Linked DNA regions of Homo sapiens: region 1 is linked to region 2. The links come from fine-mapping of genetic effects on gene expression. Tissue or cell type: whole blood. Region 2 holds a variant in brackets; the other region holds the start of a gene. All regions are shown on one strand. Distances are from middle to middle.

Region 1 (2,751 bases), 33 kb before region 2:
GGGCCACAATGCAAGACTCCGTCTCAAAAAAAAAAAAAGAAAAAGAAAAAAGAAAAGAGAAACAGTGTAGCAGAGGGAAGGCCAAGTGCAAACGCCAGGAGTCTGAACTTGGAGGGACAGGTTCTTCCACACTTGCAACAGAGGTCTCCTGCCTCCCTGACCGCCCCGCCCCCCGCGCCCCTGTCTGTGTGAGGAAATCAAATCTCAGCTTGCCTAGGGCCCTGTGGCAGGGAGGCCCCAACTTCACCCCATGGGTCTTGGGTCTGCTGAGCTGAGTCAGAGAAAGGTTTATTATCCCCATTTTACAGAGGCTTATTGTCCAAAGGCGAAGCCACTTGCCCAGAGTACATGCGGTGGGCCAGCGACTATGAAAACCCCTGGGGCTGTCCTCTGTTCAGGGATCGCCCAGGCTCCCTGCCCCTGCGCGCTGCTGAGACTGGGTCATTTTCGGTTCTACCAGGCAAGCGGGGGACCCAGCCCCCACTGCTGCTGCCCTCAGCCAAAACCAGGGCTGCGCCACCACCCACCCGGCCTATCTCCCATCTTATCTCCCCAGCTCTGTCGCCTGACCCCTGCACCCCACCAAATCGCAGCCTTTGCCCGGTGCCCTCACCGCCTCGGTTGGCCCCCGCGCGCGCCTCGGGCGAACCCCTGGACTGGCCCTCCAACAGGGCCCCAGACTCGGGGTACCCAGGGTGGCCGCTGAGGCCTGGAGAAATCTGGGCCTCCCCTGTGCACCATCCAACTGCGCGCCCCAGAGGCTCAGGGCGCCCCGGGAGTGTGGGGGTGTGGACAGATGAGCAGAGCCAGAGCATCTCGGGCAGAAGAGGGGACCTGGGAGGGGGCCGGGGAGACAGACAGCGAACAGGGGTGAAGCCGGGGCCGGACGGAGCGCGCAGCGGACAATACTGGGTTCAAAGGGGAGAGATAAGGCGCAGACTAGAAACGCTAGGCTGGACCCGGGCCAGGCGCGCCGCGGGGCAGAGATGGGCGGAGCGGGAACGGGGGCGGGGGCGAGAATGGGGGGGCGGGGACGGGGGCGGGGATGGGGTGCGGGTGCGGGGTCGGGGGCCAGGGAGAGGCCTAGTTGCGTCGAGGGGGGCAAGCGCCTGGAGGACCCGGCGCCCGCTCCAGGCCCTGCCCCTCCAAGTCCCCCGCCCCGCGCCAGGCCCCGCCTCTCCAGGGCCCCAGCCCCGCGCCAGGCCCCACCGTTCCGGGGCGCGTGCCCCGCCCAGGCCCCGCCCCCACGGCCCCGCCCCGGGCTCCCCCCACTCAAGCCTTTTTTCCCCTGCTGGGGGCCGAGGCCCGGCCAGGAGCAGAGTCCGGCTGCCTGGGGCGGGCGGCGCGTGTCTGCAGCTGCTCCGGGTAGCCCGCTAGGCGCGCCGTCCCCAGCCCCGCCGCCGGCCCTCGGTGCGCCCGGCCGCCTGCACCCCCAGGTAAGCGAGCACCCCGCGCCGCGAACACCGCCCCGAACGCCACCCTCACGGCGGTCCCCGGCCCCGCCTCCGCGGCCATGGCGGCCCCAGCCCGGCCCCCACTCGCAGCTGGGCTCCAGCCCCCATCACCCCGCCGGGGACTGTCCCCCTCGGGGCTTCCCATCATGGCCGTCTCCCCGAGCTATCCGCGCTCCCCCACGAGGGCCGGGGCGCAACGGGTGCCCGAGGACGCGGCTGTGAAACGGGCTGGAGCGAGTAGGGGCGATCCTGGCCTCGTGACGCGGGGGAATCCGGATGTGTGAGCCGGGGGAGCGCCCCGTTTCCCCGACGTGCCAGGGCTGGGGACGCAGCTGGGGCCCTGGCCTCGGAGTCCGCAGCCCGGCCGCGTAGACGGCTTCTGAGAACCGCTTAAACACGTCATTCCAAGCCCGAGCTAACCCATCAGGCGGCCGGGGTGAGGTGGAGGTGCCCAGGCGGGGATAATGTCATTTGGCCTGGTTGGACCAGCCAGCGAGGGCTTTTTAGGCCCAGGGCCTAGCCGGGAGTGTGTGCGGAGCAGAAAAGAGGCCAGCCTGGCTGAAACGCGGAGAGGGAGGGTCTGAGGTGGAGAGAGGTTGGCCGGGGCCTGGGAAGCGGCGAGGAGAGTGTGGAACCCGTTCTCGGGGCGGTGGGGACCAGGGAGGCTTGGAACAGCAGGTGCATGGCGTGATCGGATTGTGTCTTAAGAACATCCCGTAGCCGCTGTGGGTAGGAGAGATGGGGATACTTGGAAGGGGGCTTCTGGCTTGACCTGGCTGGAAGGTGTGATAGGAAGTGGGTGAACTGAAAATTCGCTTTGGCAGAGTAACATCGTCTAATTCTGTCTGTTTGCAAGTGGAGCGTGGGGGACCGATGTTTCTCCTGGGTAGTTAGGAGTATATAGAAGAGGCTTTCATTGCTGGGTTGGGAGACTTGAGGAGAAGCTGCTCTGGGGGACACAGGAAGGTGGGCAGGGGGAGAGGCTGTTGTGGTTTGCAAAACCTACCAGATGGGGGAATGCTCCCATCGACTCCAGTCTGAGCTCAGGCAAGGTCTCAGGCATCTGAGCGCAGAGGCCAGGGTGACCCCACTGGGGCGACCTGGGTCTGTTATATGGGGATAGGGTTCCTGGACTGTGGAATTGTCTTTGAAGCCCTCGGCCTCCCCCAGCCTCAAATGGGTCTGCCTTCCAGGAGCAGCTGCTGTGAATAAACACAGAAGTGGAGCTGGGGGACTGATTAGAAGCCTCATTCAGTGCACCTGGGCCCCAGCAGGCCCAGCCAGGCGTGGAGGAAGA
Region 2 (2,751 bases):
TCCTAAGGGCTTGGAAGAACCATCTAGAAGCCTCCATAGGCCAGCACCCCTTCTTTCCAGACCACTCCCCATCCTGCCCCCACCTCCTGTCTAGCAGTAACTATCACAGTCTAAGCTGTTTTTTGGGGGGTTTTTTTCCGAAACAGGATCTGCTCCGTCACCCAGGCTGGAGTGCAGTGGTGTGATCACAGCTCACTGCAGCCTCAAACTCCTGGGCTCAACCAGTCCTCTCACCTCAGCCTCCTGAGTAGCCGGGATTACAGGTGTGTGTCACTATGCCCACCTAATTTTTAAATTTTTTTGTCTTGCTATGTTGCCCTGGCTGGTCTCGAACTCCTGACCTTAAGCAATCCTCCCACTTCGGCCTCTCAAAGTGCTGGGTGTGAGCCACTGCACTCGGTCCTCTAAATTTTACTAGGTGCTCACTCCACCTCAGGTGCCATTCCGAACCACTCCATGTGGAAGAGGGGCTATTGTTTGTTCCATTTTACAGATAAAACTGAGGCACAGATAGGCCACGTTCCATGCCTGGTAAACGGGTGAGGCAGGAATCAGGAATCAGATCCGTTGTGATATCAGCATGGAGTGTTTATAAACTGCCCGCCTGCCCTGAGCCTCACAATAGCCTGGTAGAACAAGGAGGGAATCTAGCTGTACCCATTTTTCAGATGGGACAACTGAGGCCCAGGAAGACAGAGGATGACAGGGAACAAACAGAAGAACTGGATCCAAAAGAGAAAAGCTAGAAATTGAGGAACACATCCCTCAGCCTCATTTCCTCCCTTCCCTCAGGAGAAGTTGAGCCTTGCTGGCCTGAGGTGCCTGGTTATAGCCATGCCTGAGCCCCTCCCATATGCCAGACTCTGCCTCAATGCCCCAGGTGCAAGGTCTCTGAGCTGCTTAACCACCCTTCAGGGAGGGCACCTGTCCCACCAACAGGTGACGAAATTGAGGCTCCCAGGGCTTTGAAGCATTGCAGCTAGGACTCCAGCCAGTCTGCTGGGCTCCAGACCCTGTTCTTTTCTCAAACCACAGCATCTTTTATTTATGCTTTAAGAGGGAGAAGAGGGAAGGGACGAGACAGAGACAGGTTGGTGAGGTTAGTGAGAGAGTAGGACCTCTGGGGCCAGACCTCTGCAATCAGGGCATATCAGTCTGAAGCCTCCTTGGAGAGCTCCCTGGTTTAGAAAGTGCATCTGTTCCCCTTTCTGTGCCACTCAGGAAGC[A/G]ATGGGCATGATTCAGCAGAGGAGAGGAGAGTTTAGAACTGGTTATGCTTCCTTCTCCAACCCTCCCTGCAAAAACACTGGCCAGCTCCTGACATCACAGTAAGACAGGGTTGCGGGAGGGTGCTTTAACAGGATCCAAAGCAGGGCAATTGGGCTGCTTTCAGGAGGAGGTGACAACTGAGCTGGGTTTTGAAGGATGCATAGGAGTTTGCCAAACAGAGAAAGAAAGCGTTTAAGCTCTTCAGGGCAGAGATGTTGCTTGTTTTCCCCACCATTTTGTGTCTTCAGCACCCAAATACTAAATGAGCATTCTAGGCAGAGGCCAGTATTTGTAAAGGCTAGGATGTGTGAAACGATATGGTCTGGTGGGAGCAGAGTATCAGTCAGTAAACTGGTGGGCATTGAAGCTGGGCACATCAGCAGAGGCAAGGCTTGAGATTGTGAGAAGCCATTGCTCCTGTGGTTCTCCCTCATCCCCTACACTCATCATGACTTGAATGTACCAAGGTGTGCAAGGATGCATCCAAGACCCTTGGGTGAGGGGAAAACATGGAGCTGGGGGTCTGGATGCCTGGGCCTTCCTAGGACACCTAGTCCCCTTCCATCTGCACCTTGGGGTCTGTCAGAAAGGTAGCAGGGTCTCTGAGAAAGCTGCACCAGTGACTCAGAAGGCTGAGGTGGGAGGATGGCTTGAACCCAGGAGTTTGAGGCTGCAGTGAGCTATGATCAGGCCAGTGCACTCCAGTCTGGGTGACAAAGTGAGACCCTGTCTCTAAAAAAAAAAAAAAAAAAAAAAAAAAAAATAGGGGATTGCAGATACCCTGCAGTGGTCATGGCTTTGGCTGTGAGAGCTGAGTACAGTTGGGACCAAGAGTGCCAAGCTGGCCATGTGTCCTTGAGCCCCCACGGGCACACGGGATCAAGCCAACCTTGTCTGCTAGTGAAGATGATTTCTTTTTCTTGAGAAATCAACCACCTGGGCTGAAGTCCCCACATCCACCCAGCTGTTCATGTGTCTACTCTGTCTGGGATGCCTGGGCCTCGTTGTAGGTCTAGACTAGCTGCTATCCCACACCCTTGACTGCTTGTTGGGTCACTGACTTCTAGTGCCCCTCCCCAACCAGAGTATCCAATGCTAGCAACAGCTTCTAATACTTCACTGATGCCTAAATGTCAGTTGCCCCATAGCATGGTACTTAGCCTGCCCCTTCATGTGCAGTCTCTTCCTTTTTTTTTTTTTTCCCCCAAAACAGGGTCTTGTTGACCCCTTGCTGATAGATAGAGGATTCCATCCATCTTCATGGATTTCAACAGCAGCCACTCACTGACAAGTCCTACCCAGGCCCCACCCACCCCAAGCCTGTGCCCCAAACCTGAGTAGCTCCTGCCTCCTCCACACGCCCACGGGAACATTTTAGCTGCCCTCCCCCACACCCACAATTTGTGTTGTCTGACACTTAGCCTGACTCCTGTCCTGAAATCAGCTCATCCATTCTGGTTCATCCAGTTCTTCAGACTGGAAGGC

The links. PIP is the estimated chance that this variant, and not a neighbour inherited with it, causes the effect.
Region 1: it holds the start of CERS4, and the variant in region 2 is fine-mapped to the expression of CERS4 in whole blood (INTERVAL, PIP above 0.99). The same link has a PIP of 0.9 or more in blood mononuclear cells and monocytes.

Annotation. Positions count from the first base shown.
Region 1 is chr19:8,208,059-8,210,809 of GRCh38, forward strand. CERS4 (ceramide synthase 4) reads left to right here and starts at 1,312. Exons shown (of 12, transcript NM_024552.3): 1 at 1,312-1,436; 2 at 2,648-2,751. RefSeq lists a silencer at 993-1,912.
Region 2 is chr19:8,241,195-8,243,945 of GRCh38, forward strand. All of the region lies in intron 2 of CERS4 (ceramide synthase 4), which reads left to right. Among named protein-coding and RNA genes, the nearest start is that of CERS4, 33 kb to the left of the region's middle. The variant A/G (reference allele first, on the strand shown) is at 1,227.